5 linked regions of the Homo sapiens genome follow. The protein of the gene in region 1 purifies or fractionates together with the protein of each later gene. This does not show direct contact. Each region holds a gene or a part of one and is shown on either strand. Other genes may lie near its edges.

The links.
Region 2: the proteins of CLEC10A (region 1) and FAM241A purify together in Homo sapiens (affinity purification with mass spectrometry; 3 studies listed by BioGRID and IntAct, with this or other methods). This does not show direct contact.
Region 3: the proteins of CLEC10A (region 1) and GNG10 purify together in Homo sapiens (affinity purification with mass spectrometry; one large-scale study listed by BioGRID and IntAct). This does not show direct contact.
Region 4: the proteins of CLEC10A (region 1) and HS6ST2 purify together in Homo sapiens (affinity purification with mass spectrometry; one large-scale study listed by BioGRID and IntAct). This does not show direct contact.
Region 5: the proteins of CLEC10A (region 1) and GOLM1 purify together in Homo sapiens (affinity purification with mass spectrometry; one large-scale study listed by BioGRID and IntAct). This does not show direct contact.

Annotation. Positions count from the first base shown.
Region 1 is NC_000017.11:7,073,565-7,077,896, forward strand, and holds the end of CLEC10A (C-type lectin domain family 10 member A), read right to left. Parts: intron 3,424-4,332; coding exon 3,328-3,423; intron 3,241-3,327; coding exon 3,169-3,240; intron 2,589-3,168; coding exon of another isoform or gene 2,508-2,588; coding exon 2,421-2,507; coding exon of another isoform or gene 2,412-2,420; intron 2,322-2,411; coding exon 2,167-2,321; intron 1,903-2,166; coding exon 1,796-1,902; intron 1,659-1,795; coding exon 1,490-1,658; 3' UTR 973-1,489; downstream 1-972. UniProt on the Homo sapiens protein: C-type lectin receptor involved in recognition of N-acetylgalactosamine (GalNAc)-terminated glycans by myeloid antigen presenting cells (APCs).
Region 2 is NC_000004.12:112,192,755-112,196,523, reverse strand, and holds the end of FAM241A (uncharacterized protein FAM241A), read right to left. Parts: 3' UTR 1,268-3,769; downstream 1-1,267.
Region 3 is NC_000009.12:111,667,089-111,671,266, reverse strand, and holds the end of GNG10 (guanine nucleotide-binding protein G(I)/G(S)/G(O) subunit gamma-10), read right to left. Parts: intron 1,999-4,178; 3' UTR 1,041-1,998; downstream 1-1,040. UniProt on the Homo sapiens protein: Guanine nucleotide-binding proteins (G proteins) are involved as a modulator or transducer in various transmembrane signaling systems.
Region 4 is NC_000023.11:132,668,008-132,672,624, forward strand, and holds part of HS6ST2 (heparan-sulfate 6-O-sulfotransferase 2), read right to left. Parts: intron 1,882-4,617; exon of another isoform or gene 1,556-1,881; intron 1,193-1,555; coding exon 1,106-1,192; intron 404-1,105; exon of another isoform or gene 267-403; intron 1-266. UniProt on the Homo sapiens protein: 6-O-sulfation enzyme which catalyzes the transfer of sulfate from 3'-phosphoadenosine 5'-phosphosulfate (PAPS) to position 6 of the N-sulfoglucosamine residue (GlcNS) of heparan sulfate.
Region 5 is NC_000009.12:86,075,225-86,079,841, forward strand, and holds part of GOLM1 (Golgi membrane protein 1), read right to left. Parts: intron 4,118-4,617; 5' UTR 4,097-4,117; coding exon 3,968-4,096; intron 2,368-3,967; coding exon 2,188-2,367; intron 1-2,187.

The sequences.
Region 1 (4,332 bases):
ACACAAAAGTAGCCAGACATGGTGGCAGGCTCCTGTAATCCCAGCTACTCGGAAGGCTGAGGCAGGAGAATCACTTGAACCTGGGAGGCGGAGGTTGCAGTGAGCTGAGATGACGCCATTGCACTCCAGCCTGGGCAACAAGAAGGAAATTCCCGTCTCAAAAAAAAAAAAAAAAAAAAAAATCAAAATAGCTGAGATGCTTCCCTGGTATATGCTGGATTGATTGAAAAAACAGAAATCTCCACCCCTCTCTATATCCATTCTCTACACAGTATGACTTTGTAGACCCCCCCCCAACCCCCCACCAAAATGTGGAATCTATTTCTCTGGCCCTTGAACCTGGGCAGCCTTGCAATCTGCTTTGGCCAATAGGATGCAGCAAAAACGATGCTTCAGTTCCAAGCAAGGCTCTGAAGTCCTTGCAGTCTTCCAATTTCTCTCTTGGACCCCCACCCAGCCATTCTGTGAACAAGGCCAGGCTAAGCTAATGTGGCCCAGTCATCCCCATTGTCCCAGCCCAGAGCCAGCCAAATATGAGACATGGGAGCAAGGCTACCCTAGACCAGCCAACCCCAAGCCAACCCACCAGCTGACCACGGACGCATAAACAAGCCCAGCCAAGATGACCCAAACCTGGCCAGACCAGACCTATAGCCTCATGAGCTATAATAAATGCTTACTGTATAAGCCCTGAGCTTTGAGGTGGTTTGTTACACACCAATTGCTAACCAATACACCTGGGGATCTTATCTACATCTCCCAACAACTCTGGGATCTTCAGAGAAATTAAACAATGGCTTTTCCTAATCACCCTAAGTTTATACCATCTTTAAGTGACAGAAAAGATTTGAACTCAAATCTATATGAGAAGAAAATGCTATTTTCTCAATCACATAGGACTTTCGAAGGCTTCACCTGGCTTCTCCACTCTGCCATTTTTAGATTGCCAAAAATCAAGCAACACAAAGTACGTAAGTTCTCACGAGAGTATATATTCACTTATATGAAGTATATACACGAGAGTGTATGATTTCACTTATATGAAGTTCTAGAAGCTCTAGAAGAGGCAAGGCCAATAAATAGTGAAAAAGAAGTAGATCACTGGCCTGGAAACAGGGAAGTGGTTGGACTGCCCAGAGGCATGAGGGGACTGGTGGGGGCGATGGCAATGTTATCTATTGCGATCGGAGTGGTAGTCACCTAGGCATGCATATTTGTCAAAGTCATCTCTACTCTTTAAATGAGTGCATTTTTATTATGTAAAAATTATACCTTCATGAAGTTGACTTTCAAAAGTTGGAAAAAAAATAAAAGCTTAAGAACACTATACCATCTTTTTAAAATTAAAGAGAAAAAAATTCAAAATGTTAGCAGTGCTTCCAATCTCCCAGTGCTTATTTCTCTCCCAGAGCGGTCTTGCGAGGAGGTCGTGAGAAGAGTCCTCCTCCCACCGCCATTTCTGTGGCCGGGTGGTCCCACCAAAGGCAGCTCAGTGACTCTCCTGGCTGGTCTGACCCAGGCCAGCCTCGCAGACCCAGTGGTAGGGCCTCTGGCAGACGTCGTCATTCCACCTGCCGTCTGGATGGAAGTGAGCACAGTCCTCGCCTCCACCCAGCCCGTGCCCCTGCCAGTCGTCTGGCTGGCCTGGCTTCCAGTTCCTGAGAGGAAAAGACAACAGCAAGCTAGGAAGGGTAGATGGAGTAGAATTCAGTTCAGGGGAGGAGAGGCTGCCAGTCAGATCCCTGGGGGAAACGCTGACGGAGGACATTGGCACAGAAAGCCAGGGTGCACTCACTGGAAGCCGGTCGCATAGTCTGTTCCATCCACCCACTTCCAGGCTCCTTCAGGGTCACTGAGGCCCATCCAGGTGTATGCGGAGCCTAGATATTTCTGGACAAAATTCTGCGGTGACAGAAGGGCAGTGGTGACTTCTTCCCATCCCAGCCAACTCCTTAAACTAGTGATTCTCAACTTTAGCTCTTCGTTAAATCAACTGAGGAGTTTGGAGATGTTTCTCTGGATGCTCAGGCCTATTAAATCTCTGAGGGTGTGGCACAGATGACAGTCATTCTGGAAGCTCCCAGATGATTCCAATGTGCGGCCAAGCTTAAGAACCATTTCCCTAAATGGGACATGTCTTAGGAACTGAGTACCAGAAGCCCTCACCTGCTCCTCCCTGGAGTTGATGACCACCAGGTGGGCGTTCTTCAGCTGGCAGTACTTCTCAGCCTCGGCCCAGGACATCCCAGAGTGAGAGAACCAGTAGCAGCTGTCTTGGTGCTCCACCCAGTTGACAGGGCAGCAGGTCCCTTCAGTGGAGGCTGATTGGGGAGAAATAGGATAGGGTGGAGAGGCTGAGGCTCTGCCCAGTGGGCCATGGGCAGAAAAGTAGGGCCAGGTACTCCCCATACCTTCCTCACCATTGTTGTTGAGAGTAGCCACCTGGCAGGTCAGTTTCTTCAGGTCTTGCACCAGCTGCTGGACTCGCAGGAGCATTTCAGAATGAACTGGGACACACACAGATGGGCAGTGGGGACAGTGGCCTAGGTGTGCCTTCTGCGTAGTGTGTTCCTGGAGCTCAGATACCCCTGCACAGGGCCAAGCCAGGGAATGTTCCTTCCCGCCCCCACCCACCCCCTACATCATGGCCAGGTACAGCCATCAAATCTGCTTTGGATTCCTCTGCCCCTGTTTCTCCAGCCTGCTCTCCAGAGAAAGCATGCTGCCTTTCTTTCTTTCTTTCTTTTTTTTTTTTTTTTTTTTGAGACGGAGTTTCACTCTTGCTGCCCAGGCTGGAGTGCAATGGCGCGATCTCGGCTCACGGCTACCTCCGCCTCCCGTGTTCAAGCAATTCTCCTGCCTCAGCCTCCCTAGTAGCTGAGATTACAGGCGCCCACCACCACACCCAGCTATTTTTTGTATTTTTTTTAGTAGAGACGGGGTTTCACCATGTCGATCAGGCTGCTCTCGAACTCCTGACCTCGTGATCCACCCGCCTCGGCCTCCCAAACTGCTGGGATTACAGGCGTGAACCACTGCGCCCGGCCTGCATGCTGCCTTTCAAGCTGCTGGCTGAAGGGGAGGGCAGTTCAGCACCAGGAGTCTGTTCCCACCTCCACTGTGTCTGAGCGCCTAGCCCCCCACACCCATACTCGGAGGGTCTCTCACCTGCCTGCCGTTCCTGCTTGAAACCCTCCACCTCAGCTTTCAGAGATGCTATCGTTTCTTCCAAGCTGCTGCCTGGAGGACACGGAGACTTGGCTTAGGGGTCAACTTCCTCCTCCCTGGCCTGGCCCCAGCCCAGAGCCCCATCCAAACCAGACTCACCCTGGGAAGTCAGTGCCTGGATCTCCGCCACAGTGTTTGAGGTGAAGTTGCTAAAATCTGTTCTCAGGGTCACCAGGTCCCTCTGAAATTTGGAATCTAAACAGGTGGATGGGAAGGTCAGTGCTGGGATTCATCAGGTCCTCTGTACCAGCACCGAGCAGGGCCCTCCATAAGCATTGCCTTATTGGGTCCTCACGGCAACCCAGTGGGGCAGGCACTATTATTGTTCAATATTGCCGATGAGGAAACTAAGCCTCAGAGAGGTGAAGTAATTTGAGTACATAACCCAACTACTCAGTGACAAAGCCAGCAGCCATCCTGACTATGGGTCCGTCAACTCTCTCCATCACTACCCCCACCACCGTCCCCATCAATCACTCCATCAGTGCCCCCCCACCATTCCCATCAATCACTCCATCAGTGCCCCCATCACCATTCCCATCAATCACTCCATCAGTGCTCCGACCACTGTTCTCATCAATCACTCCATCAGTGCCCCCCACTATTCCCATCAGTCACCCCATCAGTGCTCCCATCACCATTCCCATCGATCACTGCATCAGTGCCCCCCACCATTCCCAACAATCACTCCATCAGTGACCCCCACCACCATTCCCATCAATCACCCCATCAGTGACCCCCCACCGTTCCTATCAATCACTCCATCAGTGCCCCCCCACCATTCCCATCAATGACTCCATCAGTGACCCCCAACCATTCCCATCAATCACTCCATCAATGCCCCCCACCATTCCCATAAATCACTCCGTCTGTGCCCCCACCACCGTCCCCATCAATCACTCCATCAGTGCCCCCCTACCGTTACCATCAATCACTCCATCAGTGCCCTCTCCTCCATTCCCATCAATCACTCCATCAGTGCCCCATCAGTGCTTCAGTGGCTCTGTTGTGACCCCCATGACTGTTGGTAGCACTGCCCTCACCATGCCCCATTGTTATCTCCACAGCTGCCCCCAACACTGTGCCCTGCATTGCTCCTACTGT
Region 2 (3,769 bases), on another chromosome or scaffold:
TGCTTAACCCCCTCTGTCCAGTCTTGCATCTTTTACTTCCCTTACAGGTGCCAATCCCAGAGCACTCTCTAGTATACTTTCTGCATGCTAATTTCTTCCAAGTCTGCTTCCCAGGGAACTTTGACCTACAGTAAAATCAATCATAGCAGCTCTTTTATCATATAAATGATATTTAGGTATCCTATATGTGATATTTGTGTAAGATTTTATGTAAACTAAATTTAAAAATCTTTAAAAACCACTGGTCTATTAAACAAATGCTTCACCTCATATGAAAAATCATCATTAGAGTTTTGTGAAAGATGAATTTATTTAGGTTCATCTCTCCAAAGTAATACCCAGGGAGGGTGTTTTCCTTTTGTACCTGTTTCTTCTTAACCTTTATTTATATGTTCTGTTTACATACATAACTCTTGTGCCCTTTAAAACAGAAAATATATTAAAAAATTATGACTTAGGGTCCTTCAGAAGTAGCCTGCTGTGGCTACCTGGTGCTGTGGCCTCATGGAAAAACTAATCATGACTATTTTTAGAATTTTATACCTAAAAAATGAGGAAAACATTAACAGAAACAATCATGACAGACCAGAGAAGGGCATTCAGTAGATGGTACATATTTTCAAATATGGATAATGTCATTACATATCCTGCTACTCCCAGAAAAATCTTTTAAAGTGTTTGTCTTAACTGTGGTATTAATAAGTACATTGTATATAAAATTTTCTTACGTTAAACACCTCACATTAAAAATAGACTATAAACTAGCCTCTTATAATACTGGGGGAAACCAATAGCAAAAAAGGTCCATGGTTTTATGATACAAGTTACTGTATTCTATGGTGTTTTGGAAAACTGGCAAAGAAATTTCCAACTAAGTCAATTAAAGATTAAATGATAAACTTTAATTGCTGAAAAGATAACTCAAATTTAATAAACATAAATATGTTTTGGATCGCTAGCAGGCTTCTGCAGAGTTTATTCGATAATTCTAACTTACACAATAGTCAAGCCAACAGAAAGAAGAAAAATACAGCTTGGAGGCAGAGGTTGGTCTTGATCTTGGTTTTCCCACTTCTCCTTTCCTGGGAAGCCATACATGTCATGTCTTGGCATTCTGTTCCAGCAATAGGGATAAGGAAAAAAGATAACCTCTGTTCACCCTCAGATGTTTGTTGTTGCTTTGGTCATTCCAAACTGGATGTGGCAGCCATTAACTGGTAAGTAGAACATGTGATAGGGAGTTGGAAGAGACACTCAGAAGGCAGAGTTGTAAAAGAGTATTATTTATTAGAAAGAATAACAAAGTATATACATGTCATTTAACACATATGTCTGGGCTACTAGGACACTGTAATAGTGGATTTCTTCTGGAGCCTAAAACACCACGCTTCGATACTTGAGAATTTCTGCTCACAAAAAAGTTTAAGAGTTTTTTGTAAAAATTAAAATGTAGGCCGGGTGCAGTGGCTCACGCCTGTAATCCCAGCACTTTGGGAGGCCGAGGCGGGCGGATCATGAGGTCAAGCGATTGAGACCATCCTGGCCAACATGGTGAAACCCCGTCTCTACTAAAAATACAAAAATACAGGCATGCCAGCATGTGCCTGTAATCCCAACCACTCCTGCTGAGACAGGAGAATTGCTTAAACCTGGGAGGCGGAGGTTGCAGTGAGTCGAGATCGTGCCACTGCCCTCCAGCCTGGCAACGGAGCGAGACTTCGCCTCAAAAAACAAAACAAAAAATTAAAAATAAAAATCCTCAATAAAATACTGGCGAACCAAATCCAGCAGCACATCAAAAAGCTTATCCACCATGTTCAAGTGGGCTTCATCCCTGGGATGCAAGGCTGGTTCAATATACGCAAATCAATCAATGTAATCCAGCATATAAACAGAACCAAAGACAAAAACCACATGATTATCTCAATAGATGCAGAAAAGGCCTTTGACAAAATTCAACAACGCTTCATGCTAAAAACTCTCAATAAATCAGGTATTGATGGGACGTATCTCAAAATAATAAGAGCTATCTATGACAAACCCACAGCCAATATCATACTGAATGGGCAAAAACTGGAAGCATTCCCTTTGAAAACTGGCACAAGACAGGGATGCCCTCTCTCACCACTCCTATTCAACATAGTGTTGGAAGTTCTGGCCAGGGCAATTAGGCAGGAGAAGGAAGTAAAAAGTATTCAATTAGGAAAAGAGGAAGTCAAATTGTCCCTGTTTGCAGATGACATGATTGTATATCTAGAAAACCCCATTGTCTCAGCCCAAAATCTCCTTAAGCTGATAAGCAACTTCAGCAAAGTCTCAGGATACAAAATCAATGTACAAAAATCACAAGCATTCTTATACACCAATAACAGACAAACAGAGAGCCAAATCATGAGTGAACTCCCATTCACAATTGCTTCAAAGAGAACAAAATACCTAGGAATCCAACTTACAAGGGACGTGAAGGACCTCTTCAAGGAGAACTACAAACCACTGCTCAATGAAATAAAAGAGGATACAAACAAATGGAAGAACATTCCATGCTCATGGATAGGAAGAATCAATATCGTGAAAATGGCCATACTGCCCAAGGTAATTTATAGATTCAATGCCATCCCCATCAAGCTACCAATGACTTTCTTCACAGAATTGGAAAAAACTACTTTAAAGTTCATATGGAACCAAAAAAGAGCCCGCATCGCCAAGTCAATCCTAAGCCAAAAGAACAAAGCTGGAGGCATCATGCTACCTGACTTCAAACTATACTACAAGGCTACAATAACCAAAACAGCATGGTACTGGTACCAAAACAGAGATATAGATCAATGGAACACAAAAGAGCCCTCAGAAATAACGCCGCATGTCTACAGCTATCTGATCTTTGACAAACCTGAGAAAAACAAGCAATGGGGAAAGGATTCCCTATTGAATAAATGGTGCTGGGAAAACTGGCTAGCCATATGTAGAAAGCTGAAACTGGATCCCTTCCTTACACCTTATACAAAAATTATTTCAAGATGGATTAAAGACTTACATGTCAGACCTAAAACCATAAAAACCCTAGAAGAAAACCTAGGCATTACCATTCAGGACATAGGCATGGGCAAGGACTTCATGTCTAAAACACCAAAAGCAATGGCAACAAAAGACAAAATTGACAAATGGGATCTAATTCAACTCAAGAGCTTCTGCACAGCAAAAGAAACTACCATCAGAGTGAACAGGCAACTTACAAAATGGCAGAAAATTTTCGCAACCTACTCATCTGACAAAGGGCTAATATCCAGAATCTACAATGAACTCAAACAAATTTACAAGAAAAAAACAAACAACCCCATCAAAAAGTGGGCAAAGGACATGAACAGACACTTCTCAAAAGAAGACATTTATGCAGCCAAAAAACACATGAAAAAATGCTCACCATCACTGACCATCAGAGAAATGCAAATCAAAACCACAATGAGATACCATCTCACACCAGTTAGAATGGCGATCATTAAAAAGTCAGGAAACAACAGGTGCTGGAGAGGATGTGGAGAAATAGGAACACTTTTACACTGTTGGTGGGACTGTAAACTAGTTCAACCATTGTGGAAGTCAGTGTGGCGATTCCTCAGGAATCTAGAACTAGAAATACCATTTGACCCAGCCATCCCATTACTGGGTATATACTCAAAGGACTATAAATCATGCTGCTATAAAGACACATGCACACGTATGTTTATTGCAGCACTATTCACAATAGCAAAGACTTGGAACCAACCCAAAT
Region 3 (4,178 bases), on another chromosome or scaffold:
AAGTAGTTTTATCCGGCTGTACTTTCTCTAACTACTGAATTTTATCTGTTTATATCTAGGACATTTGCATCTATATTCATCTATAAGTGAGATGCTTATAGTTTCATTGTGCTATCTTACCAAATGTTTGCTGAAAGGGGAAAGTGGAATCAAAAAAGAATTTTGTTTTTCAATGAGGATTTTAAAAAATGCTGTTGTTGTTAAGACAGAATGGAACATGCTAAATTGTGATAGAAAGGGTCCACTGGAGGCCAGACACAGTGGCTCACGCCTATAATCCCAGAACTTTGGGAGGCTGAGGTGGGTGGATGGCTTGAGCTCAGGAGTTCAAGACCAGCCTGGCGACATGGCGAAATCCCATCTCTACAAAAAATACAAAAATTAGTCGGGTGTGATGGTTCACGCCTGTAGTCCCAGCTACTTGGGGGCCAGAGGTGGGAAGAACACTTGAACCTAGGAGATTGAGGCTGCAGTGAGCCGAGATAGCGCCACTGCACTCCAGCCTGGGTGACAAAGTGAGACCCTGTCTCAAAAAAGAAAAGAGAAGAGAAGAAAAGAGAAAATAAAGCATCCAGCAGAGAACTTGAAGATGAAGGAGAAAGGATCACTGGTAGTGTGCAATTTCAGAGAAGGTGAAACAGATCCAGAGAACAAATAGGTTATAAAAGGGATGCCTGAATTATGACTGAATGGAAGGGATTCCAATCACTAGATCTAGAAGTTTAGTAGCTAAAAGTTAAGGGAGTTCCCATCTAATAACTTCTATTTTCTCTATTGTAACACTACTTACACTCACAGATATTTTTGTTTATTTATGAGTTTATATATAGCTATTTCAGAGAACAAATGTTGCCATTAATAGAGATATTTTCTTCATGTTATACAGTTATCTATTTTTCAGGACATTTGCAAAATTCTACAAAGACTTAAAAACAACAATTTCACTCTCTCATTCCAGCACTCAATCTCACAGGCAAACAGAAATCCTTGAGTCCTTAATACAAAATCAGACACAAAATATTGCTGTCATAGAAAAATGATTAATTAAGCAGAAATTTTATTTCCAAGCTCTTCAAAGACCGTTGCAAACACGAATAATGTATCCTTCTAAAAAAGTGTCCCAAATTAAATCAAAGGCACATCGTCGAAGTAAAACACTTGTGAAGTTAAGAATTCTTTTAGGTTGTAATATTTTCATGTTAGTTTTTAATCATTTACAATGTTCTGTGGGTCACATTTTAAACATTTTTAAATATATGAAATTCTGTATTTCTTTAAGTACAGCCACAACTACAAAGCAGAGAAACGTAAGAATACAAAAATCAAATCTGCTTCATTTATATACACGATGGGGCAGCCTAATGCACATCATAACATTAACTTTTCCAAAGAAGTTTGCTAAGAATCTGCTCCCATAATTAGTGTTAAAAATAAAGCAATCTTCCCATTTAGAAAAATCAAGACATCAGTTGATTAATAAAGCCTATTCTTCCTCCCAGCAATTTGTACTTTCTGGTCTTCATTTAGGAATTATAAATTCATGACAAAAGAACAAATTTTTTATGGAATAAATAACTTCCAGGAACAACAGTTTATAAGTATTCAGTTGTTTAAATAAACAAAACTATTTTCCTTCCTAAAATGTAAACATCCAGTAAATGAAACATACATGATATTCCAGGTATAGAAATCTTAGTAACTCACTTATGAAAGAGGTGCATTTTGGTATGTTTGGTGGTAAGGTTTTTGTTTATCTTATGTATAAAAGTACTTGCACAAAAAAAACAAGCAGTTATTACTATTTAAAATTCTATTCCTTCACCCAGTTTTCTCACTCAAGTAGAAACTCATGAATATCTGTGATTTTGGCTATAGGACCAGGCCACAGGAAAGGGCTGAAATATCTCTAAAAGTTAGGGAAAAGTGTTTTCTTGAGACTTGAAGGCAGTCATTCATCACTTTGTGCTTGAAGGCATTCCTCAGCAAACTTCTCTCCTACTGGAAAAAGAGTTTGTTTGGTTTTCACTTTAGTAAGATTTCTTTATAAAATTAACTAGTCATCATTTAATAGGGTACTTTAGTATTCACGAAATAGAAAGCAACAGGTGAGCTAGGCGCGGTGGCTCACGCCTGTAATCCCAACACTTTGGGAGGCCGAGGTGGGTGGATCACCTGATATTGGGAGTTCAAGACCAGCCTGACCAACATGGAGAAACCCTGCCTCTACTAAAAATACAAAAAAATTAGCCGGGCATGGTGGCGGGCACCTGTAATCCCAGCTACTAGTGAGGCTGAGGCAGGAGAATCGCTTGAACCCGGGAGGCAGAGGTTGTGGTGAGCTGAGATCGCACCATTGCACTGCAGCCTGGAAACAAGAGCAAAACTCCGTCTCAAACAAAAAAAAAATGAAAGTAACAGGTGAATACAAAAGACATCTAAACCACACCACTGAATGAGCAGCACCCATGAAAGTGCTTTGTAAGGCCGGGCGCAGTGGCTCACGACTGTAATCCCAGCACTTCGGGAGGCCGAGGCAGGCAGGTCACCTCAGGTCAGGAGTTTGAGAACAGCCTGAGCAATACGGTGAAACCTCATCTCTCCTAAACATACAAAAATTAGCCAGGCATGGTGCTGCACACCTGCAGTCCCACCTACTCGGGAGACTGAGGCAGGAGAATTACTTGAACCTGGGAGGTGGAGGTTGCAGTGAGCCAAGATTGTGCCACTGCACTCCAGCATGGGTGACAGAGTGAGACTCCATCTCAATTTAATAAAGAGAAGGAAGGAAAGAAGGAGGGAAGGGAAGGGAAGAAGAGGGGAGGGGAGGGGAGGGGAGGGAAGAAGGAAGCTTTGTAAAAAGAAAAATGCTATGCCAACATAAGACTATTATCTTAACACCATAAATATGAACATTTTCCATTAAAAAGTACAATAAGATTTGATAGATTGCTTCCTTCTTTTAAATGTGAACAATTTCCTTTTGCTACTTGTGAAGAAGGACCTAAGATAATTACTCACTGTATAAACACCCCTTAGAACACATCATTTGAAATATGTTGGTCCCAAAAGACTCTAATAATTCATGCCCTTGTCCTCTTAAAAAAACATTGTGTCACGCCTGTAATCCCAGCACTTTGGGAGGCCAAGGCAGGCAGATCATGAGGTCAGGAGTTTGAGACCAGCCAATTCAAGACCAGCCTAGCCAACATGGTGAAACCCCATTTCTACTAAAATACAAAAAAATTAGGTGGGCATGGTGGCATGCGCCTGTAATCCCAGCTACTCGGGTGGCTGAGGCAGGAGAATTGCTTGAACCCAGGAGACAGAGGATGCAGTGAGCCAAGATCGCGCCACCGCACTCCAGCCTGGGTGACAGAGCAAGATGTCTCGGCGATGAGGGGGGAAACACATTGTGAAAATGACCCCAATACAAAGCATTCGAACCCAAGAAGTTTCTAATATGCCACCAGAGAGGTGTTTTCATTTATCAATTTTTAAAGCTCTTTTAACCCCACTCACACTTTTTCCCAATAGCTATATTTCTTCCTCCATTAAAACAGAGATATATTCTGAAAACCATTGGGAAAGAAATCACAGCGGGTGGTAGGCACACATCTCCCACTCTGGGGAGTCCTTATTCCCAAGAGTAGCAAGTCAGTTGATAGCACTAAGTAGCAAATCCCAACCCTTGGATGCTATAAGGACAGAGAGGGTGGGCTTAAGGTCAAGAAATTACTGGCCAGGTGTGGTGGCTCACACCTGTAATCCCAGCACTTTAGGAGGCCGAGGCGGGTGGATCACCTGAGGTCAGGAGTTCGAGACCAGCCTGACCAATATGGTGAAACCCCATCTCTATTAAAAATACAAACATTAGCCGGGCGTGGTGGCAGGCACCTGTAGTCCCAGCTACTCGGGAGGCTGAGACAAGAGAATTGCTTGAACCTGGGAGATGGAGGTTGCAGTGAGCCAAGATCATGCCACTGTACTCCAGCCTGGGTGACAGAGCGAGACTGTCTCAAAAAAAAGAAAGAAAGAAAGGAAGAAATTACTACCAGCCAACTCAAAGAGCTCAAGTACAGAAGGATGTTGGCATCTCATGACTTAGTGCCAGAGAGACTTCAGACTGTCCTGATTAGATGTATTCTACAGGCAAGGTAAATATACACTAGAATCACACT
Region 4 (4,617 bases), on another chromosome or scaffold:
ATAACCCGCATTCAACTTTATATGCAAACCTGAAATGGTATTCAGAGGAAAAGAAGGAAAAAAAGGCAGCCAGTAGATCTTTCACTTTGGGAATTGAATATAAGATCATATTCAAAGTGCAGCATTTACGGTCCAATGCTGAATACATAAAATATATGACCATTACAAATTCACCTTTCATTGCAAAGCTGTGCTCTTGTAGTGACATATCTTATTGCTAGATTAGAGCTTTTAGCATGATGAAGGTATCTTTCATTTTCTCCTAGATGCAGGCTGGGTGCTCTTTCTGGACTGAGTTTCTGCGTGTCACAATGCCCCACACCCTGGAGAGAGAGCTTACGGAGAACTCGAGCCATTCACCACAGGGTTGAAGCAACTTCCAAGGGGAAGTGTCTAATTAGAGGTATGTCATCTGCGTGGGATCACACTGCCTGAGTTTGCCACACTTTGCTGAAGCCAAAGGGAGAGATCGGCTGGTGTTGTCTTCTGGAATAAGCCCAGAAAAGGTCAATCTAATATCGCAAATATTCAGCCCATACAAGTTTTGGTAATACCAAAAAAACAGCTTCATGTAGGACTTGGTGCATATTAGTTACTAGGAAAAGAATATACATATCATATAAATCAGTGATATGGTTAAAACATAAATGTACTTAAACCAGGAAATTTATGGAAAAGCTTACCAGATTCTTCTAACTCAAGCCTAAACTCAGTGTATGGATCAGGACAGGTTTTCATGGACTTTGTAAGTCATAAATCAGTGCTGCTGCTGCTGCTGCTTTAATTCTTAAAACTTGTAATCCAACTCTTACATTGCCCTTATGGACTTATGTCCTTGCCCTTCACAGTCAGCCCTAAGCTATCTTTCCAGAGTCATCTCCTGACTTTTCCATCCCTCTCCTCCCTCTTCCCTAGTTCTTCATGCACCCAATATTACTGACACATGCCTTGCTCGTTTCAATTCCCCAGTGACGAGCCCAGTGGGAGGCACACAGAAGACATTCCACAAATCTTTGTTGAATGAATATGAATAAATGACAAAAGGAGGACAGCACTTGACTTTTTGACAGCTATGTCAGATGTACAGGAGCACTTTTTCACTTACTTCCCACTCTTAGATGTGTTCCGGGTCTTTGTGGATGACGGAGAGTTGGCGCCTGCGTTAGTGTTTGGAGAACCCCGTTTATCCTTACTATACCCACAGAAAGAATAGAAAACATATACACAACAAGGACCACAGAGACAAAAAGCAATTAGTCACTTCATTTAAAGACTCTCAAGGCCAGCCTGCATATCCCCCCACCACCCCCTGGCCAATCTCTCTCTCTCTCTCTCTCTCCTGTCAAAGTATGATCTTATCCAGTTGTGCCCTTTAAAGGTAGAGAGTGGGAACCACTGGTCAAGTTCAAAGAAAGCTATCCTTTTGGCATTCAAAGCTTGAGCTCATGGATTCCATCAATGATAGCACCACAGCCCAGGCCCCAAGGGGGCCTCTAGTTTTAAAAAAAAAAGTATAAAAATAACTAGTCTTTAAAATAAAATCCTTTCTTTCCAGGCACTGAATTCTCTTCATTACATGTTCAGTTCTGAAGCTGCTGACTTTTGGTGAAGTATGTGGATGCCAAATGACTTCTAAAAGTCTTTGGGAGATACTATCAGATGAATTAATAATTTTCACTCATAATGTTACATGGGAAGTCCGTGAATTCAGATATTCTTTCAGGAGAATCACCACCTGCTTCATAGTAATTGAATTTAAATCTCCACCTTCAATAACTCCACAGCTTATGTCAAACCTTGGAAACAATTACGAAATAAATCACAAGGAAGGCCTGCTTAATCTCATCAGGTTAATAAACGCAGACGAATTAATCACCTAAAGGTAAACAAAAAGGAATAATTGATTGGAGTCTTCTTGATTACTTTATTCTATTTCCTTTATCAAACTATTTTACCATTATCTTCAGTTCAGCTGCTCTGCCTTGAAATTATTCCTTTACTTCATCTTCAGATTTCCATGGAAACCAATTCAAAGCCTTTCTCTCCACTTGAAGATGTGTGGAATTATTTATCCTGATTTCATCAGGAAGATTTTTTTTTTTTTGTTAGTAAGTTCTACGTCAGCATAACCTTTTATAAAAAGTGAAGGTAAGAAAGAAAAATATGTATCTTTGCTTTTAATGTGTATAATAGAACCTTCCAGTGGCAAAGAATATTGTCTCAGAAAATGTCAAACATCTTTTCAGATATTTATGAACCTTTTAAGTATCTCCAAAATAGATGTCTGCAAGTAGCTGTATTTATATGTGGGGTGGGCTGGGGGTCACAAAAGATATTCTGCCATGCACCCATCAGCTTCAAATGACTTCATGGATATGATTGGAACAAGAGATAATGATGGGTTCCTGGTGATTGCAAAGGTAATAAAGATGTGTGTGGGCATGGAAAAAGGCTGATCAGGAAAAGTCAGAGAGATAGCAACTGTCCAAGCACTTAAGAGTCAGTGTCTAGGCTGGGCGCGGTGGCTCATGCCTGTAATCCCAGCACTTTGGGAGGCCAAGTCAGGCGGATCACGAGGTCAGGAGTTCGAGACCAGCCTGGCCAACATAGCAAAACCCCATCTCTACTAAAAATACAAAAATAAAAAATAAAAAATTACCCAGGGCATGGTGGCGGGCGTCTGTAATCCCAGCTACTTGGGAGGCTGAGGCAGGAGAATAGCTTGAACCCGGGAGGTGGAGGTTGCAGTGAGCCAAAATTGTGCGATTGCACTCCAGCCCGGGCAACAGTGCGAGACTCCGTCTCAAGAATAAAACAAAACAAAAAACGTCTAGGGGGTATGAAAAGCAGCTCTTAGAAGTGGGAGATACCCATGTGAGCTCTGGCTCTGCTGCTGGAGTGGATGGCTCTGGAGAGAGTGGACACACATTCTATCCCAGAGGAGGGGGCAGAAATCCACTGGAATGAAGTGCTGGGATTCCTGCACAGTGCAGGGACCATTACCCCGTACCACTCACAGACTCACCAGAATGTGGCCACATTCTGAGTGGGGACTGAAGAATTCATTTGGTGCTGCCTCTATCCGTCCTCGATGACTTCCTGGCAAAGGATTCCTTAGGGACCTGAGACCAGGGACCATCCTGGCTATCCTCCTCACAAATTCAAAATTGTCTCTTCCAGAAGTTTGGCATAGCCTGATGCAAAGAATGCAATATGCTAATATGCTCTGTGTCACTCTTGCACCCTGGTCACTGGCCACTGAGCCTTCCTCCTCCTAGCCCCTCACTTAAGCAGTAGGCAGTGGGAAACTTGGCTGGAAGCATTCAGATACAAGGGATGTTTTTGATGTGTCTCATGCACACTACTGGGCTCAGAGTAGGTGGTCATTTAAGTCATCACTAAATCACTAAGTGCTGAGTCACTAAGTTCATTCATTCACTTTTTTTTTTTTTTTTTTTGATAAAGCAAAATCCCCCACTGCTAAATTCCCATGTCTGCGCCTTGGGCACTAGGGTCCTCTATAGTTTACATTATAATTGACCCTGTTTAAGCTCAATGCAGGACACAGTAGGACATCAGGGAAAGCTATCAGCTGGCAGCGGCAGCCTCATTATTGTCAACTGGTGCTCTAGCGGGAGGTGGTCCTGGAGCAGTAATCCTTTAAAAGATAGGAATAAGGGCCCCTCTAACCTACTGCCAAATCCCCCAAGTACAGATATTGGGGAAATGAAAACAAAAACATTCTCAGGAATAAATCACACAGGGAAGGCATTGCACCAAGAATAGGGGTAAAATTAATCAAGTAACTGGAAATGTTTGTTCTGTGCAAATAACAGATCCATTAACAGTGATGAAATGTATCTGAAAGGGGGATCAAGAAGAACTTGTGGCTGGCTTGGATCCTCGGAGCTTAATTTTGTAGATGTACTAATGACTGTGGTATAGAAAAGTTTACCTAACATTGACAGAAAAAGTCTTCATTCCTCCACCAAAATCCAGGTCAGTTAGATAAGCCTGGGCAAGATGCCATAATTCTGAAACTTTGAGAGAGAAGGAGATCTAAAGCAGTGATATCAAGGACACTGCAGTTTCTAGAAGGGTCCCATGAAAAATAAAGAGAAAATACTGCAGCTGCAGACTGTCTGGGAACTTCAAAGATCTTTGGGGCAAAGACCTAAAGATTAAGATCCTGCCAAGAACTCTGGTCACTGAAACATCCCGCAATCCCAGGGATTTACAAGAATAAATCCAACCTGTTTCAAAGACACATAGATATAATTTTGGATATATGAGATTGGTGGGGGGGGGTGGGTGCTCCTTGATTTAGAGTTCCTAACTTACATAACCGAAACAGATCTACCCCAGTAGTTATTCTTTTGATTTGCCCATCTCTAGACTACTTGTCAGCCCTCATCACTTTCATCTTGTCTTTGAATTGTAATCTCAAACCTTATGTCCTACAATTTCCAAGGCTATGGATCCAGGCTTCCTCTACCTCACCTGAGTAGCTATCCTTTTCTATGGATAAGCTGCTTTCCTCTCTCTAGTGCCTCACAACCAAGCCTCATTAAAGGCCTGTGAAAACAATTACAGGTGAGTTTCTGTTGGGAAAAGTTA
Region 5 (4,617 bases), on another chromosome or scaffold:
ATACGCTGCTCAGTTTATGATATTTTGTTATAGCAGCCTTAAACAGACTAAGACAAAGTCCATACAGAAAGAGATAACATTATCACCGCTGCTGCGGTGGCTTACGACTGCGCCCACCACTGCTGCTGTGATCATGGCCTCGACTGCCGTTGGTACAATTAGGTGTAATAATACCAACCACCAGCTGCTGAGCTTTCATTCTAGGTTGAGCACTGGGTTAAACGCTTTATAAATATTATCTCATTCAATCCTCACAGGCACCCTGTGAGATTCCTTTCTCATTTCCACTTGACAGTTGAGAAAACAGATCCAGAGAATTTAAGTGACTTGCCTAAAATCACACAGCTGAGGGAACTTTAAACCCGGGTCTGCCTGACTCACAAGTTCCATGCCTCCTACCACCAAACCACAGCTAAAATCCTCCTGCAGCTAAGGTTTGATGTGAGAACCCACCCTTGCTCACCAAAATGAAAAGACATTTATATCGCATATTCTAAAAGAGAAAAACTGTGGAAACAGATTCTCTTTTCAAATAACTACTTGATGCTCTTTTTTTTCTTTTTCTTTTTGAGAGATGAGGTTAAAGGGGATTTCAGGAGCACAAAAAGCATATCTCACCAGTAAGAAAAGGGAAGAAACATAAAGAAGCACTTTATTACAACAACATTATGCACAATTCCCAGAGAAGAAATATGAGCTTGCAAATATAGGAAAGTACTCTGCAAATTAAACAACAAAAAAAGTACTTCTTGAATTTTAAATCAGTTATGCGAGAAAAGTCTGAGTCCCTTCCTGGAAATAATTCATTTTCTGAGACAATTCAAGATAATGGAAGTTGAGCTACAACATTCTTCCAATAAATTAGCCACTCCAGAGAGAGAGGTACACGCATTATAAAAGCCAAATTTTTCAGGCCAGGTGCGGTGGCTCATGCCTGTAATCTCAGCACTTTGGGAGGCCAAGACGGGTACATCACCTGAGGTCAGGAGTTCGAGACCAACCTGACCAACATGGCGAAATCCCATCACTACTAAAAAATACAAAAAATTAGCTGGGCGTGGTGGCACATGCCTGTAGTCCCAGCTACTTGGGAGGCTGAGGCAGGAGAATTGCTTGAACCCGGGAAGCAGAGGTTGCAGTGAGCCAAGAGGGCGCCATTGCACTCCAGCCTGGACAACAAGAGGGAAACCCCATCTCAAAAAAAAAAAAAAAAAAAAAAAAAAAAAAAAAGCCAAATTTTTCTAGTTAATAATAGAGGCCAAAGTTTGATGCACTCTGGGACAGGAGATATTAGTAACTCACACAGTTACACAATTTAATAAAGAAAGTATAGTCATATATTCCTACATAAGAAAACCAGGCCGGGCACGGTGGCTCATGCCTGTAATCCTAGCACTCTGGGAGGCTGAGGCAGGTGGATCACGAGGTCAAGAGATCGAAACCATCCTGGCCAAAATGGTGAAAACCCCATCTCTACTAAAAATATAAAAATTAGCTGGGCGTGGTGGCAGGCACCTGTAATCGCAGCTACTCAGGAGGCTGAGGCAGGAGAATCGCTTGAACCCGGGAGGCAGAGTGAGCCAAGATTGCACCATTGCACTCCAGCCTGGGCGACAGAGCCAAACTCCATCTCAAAAAAAAAAAAAAAGACACATAAAGCTTAGATATTTTAATTAGCAGGAAGGCCCCTTTAAATCTACGCAGGATTTGTTGGTTTTTTTCCTAGCTTAAAAGCAAGGGTGCAGTCCCCTACTTTCTCTGTTAGTATTTAGTAGAGTCTGCCTCTCCTCTCCTCCATTAGATACTTGGAGGGCACAAATATTATTTTTCTCTGAGATATAAGCACCTGGCATAGGCCTGGCACAGAGTAGGTATTTAATACATGTTTGTGGAAAGTGGGAAGAAAAAACCCAATAGGAGAAAAAAAAAAGCCAATAGGAGGATGAATCTGAAATTGTTCTTCTGCATTTCTCCTGTTTATTACCACTGCAAAAGGCTTCACCGCAAGCCCAGCCAGGGACTTGGAGGGGAAAGGGAGAGAATGCCCAAAGCTTGATCAATAGGCTCTTTCCACATAATTACATAAATCTAAACCCAGCCGCTTGCTCATCCTCCCGCCAAGAAGAAACAGACAATGTAGACACCATCCCTTAGAAAAGAACTGAGAGGAAACAAAGCAGGCCTTGCCTTTTCGTCCTGGTACAGCTTGTTGACGCTCTCCAGCTGGAAGTTGTGGCTGGACTGGATTTTGTCAAGCTGCTCCCGCTGCTTCTCCAGCTCTCCCTGGAACTCGTTCTTCTTCAGCTCCACGGCGCCTCTCTCTGCAGCCGCCCTGCGGACCCTGCCTTCCAGCTCCATGATCCGTGTCTACAAGGAGACCGTGGCATTAGGGCTGATGCCAAGTTACCTGAGGAGCCTGGACCACCTGAGCGCCCTCCACAAAGACCACCTTGGGGCCCAGGGCCAGCACCAGTCTTATACACACAAGTGCCCAAGGCTGTGTTTTAAGTCAACTGGACAGAAGCTGGAGCGGTTTCTTCTGGAAAAAATGGTCTCTGTCAGTGTAAGTGAAGGAAGGCTCTGTGCACTCACACCACACTTCCCACTGGGTTTTTGTGAGGCTTAAATGTGCTAAGTGCACAGAATGCCTCATGCTTTACCTGGCATAAGATGATGCTCAAATATTTAGTTCTTCTTCGCTGCTAACAAAGCACTTAACAACTCTTTAGCAGATACAATTTCTGAAAACAGATTCAGTTCTCCAACTCCAGACAAGCAGACCTCATCTGCCCAGAGAACAGGAACTCCCGTGGAAGCTGAGACACAGGGAGTACAAGCCCAGGAGGGTAAGTGTGAGAACAGGACAGAGCACAGACGTGCTGGGGTGCCACGGCTAAGCCCATGCAGGTTGGAATCCCTGCTCCACCTCAACCTCTTGGTGCCTCAGTCTGACCCCCTGTGAAATGAGGAAAGTCAAGTCCCAGCCTTGTAGGGTTTGTGCACAAAAGGAGATAATTTGTATAAAGTACTGTGAAAGAGAAATTATTCTGACATTCATTAAAATGGTAAGAAAGACTATTCAAAACGATTGCAATAGGAGAGGGAAATTGTGCTCAATGCCGAACACATCAAAGACAGCTAGGGATTTATAGCCAACGAGCACAGTGCGGGGAGTCAGTGGATGGAAATCGCCCCCAGAGTAGGGGGATTCTTGCTAAACTGGCCTAACAAGATTCTTGCTAAACACAGGCCAAGGACTTAGACAGCAAGGGTAGGGATGAGGAACTTGGTCAAGGATCAGGGGTAGAAGGATGGCTTAGCGGGATCCTTTGCTAGGACTGGGCTGGGCAGGCCAAAGACAGGCAGTGAGAGTTGGGAGGTGCCAAGATCAAGGCCTAGTCAAGAAGACGGCTCAGAAGGGCCCGACTCAAGTTCAATCAAGAGGAGCATCTTTGTCACTGCTCAGCACTGCACCTGACCCATGACTGCACCGGTAAATGAGGAAGTTAAAATTATTATTATCATTAAGTAATGAAGATAAAGATTGGTACCTTTAAAAACATATTTCTTACACCCATCATCCAAGCACACTTCCAATACTACTCTTCGATATCTTGGGCGCCGGAGGACCGCAAACAACGGACTATGGCCAGTGTATGTAAGCAAGCTGTCTTCCCAGAACCACCCCAGTAGCTCAAATGAATGCTGTTAACTCACAGGAAAGGCAGGGAGGGATACCACAACCGCAATCCTACACAACCACAGAGGGGACCTCTCCCACCCAAAGCTGCTTGGGGTCTGGCCCAGGGCTGTGGGGGTGTGCAGAGCCCTAAACTCACCTTACAAGCGTGTGCCCTGCACAAAACGCCCTGGCTGGCAATAAACAACAAACCCCTGGGACCCCATCATAACAAAATAAACAAAACATAAACATAAAATAAACATAACAATAAAGAAAACAAAACACCTGGAGGTCCACGCTCCGGGAGCTCGCAATCCAGTAGTTGAAGCCCAAGACGATGATGCAGGCCACCAGGGCGGCCAGCACGAGGGGCGGCGACTTCATGCTGCGACGCCCGTTTCCCAAGCCCATCATCTCAAAATCAGCGCTGAGAATCTGCCAAGTAAAAGCAAATAAATAAACATCAATACTAGTTTTATCATCTCCGAAGCAGACCGTATCATCCTTACAACCAAGAGGAAAGGAGTCTTGCCAAGAAGCGTGGGCTGGTAGCTTCTCCTTGACGTGCAAAGCTGTCAAGGGAGAAGAGTATGTGAACGGCACGCACAGAGCCCATGGTGCTGTGAACCCAGGGCAGTGTGGCCAGTTCCCAGGACAGGCTCGGAGGAGCAGGCACCGCCCCGAAACCTGCCACAGATTAGCTCGAGACCTGGGGCAAGACATGATTCCTCTTACACTTCAGATTCCTCCCTTGTAAAATCATTACCATACTCACCTTCCCGGCATAGTTTGAGAATTAATCATTTCTGTAAGCAGCAATGTTTGAGAAGTAATCATTTCTGTAAACACCAATAACAAATATTAAGTGCTTCCGCATCATATTAGAAAGAGTATATTCCTCATTACTCCTCAGAGAGAGCTTTTTGCTTTGATTC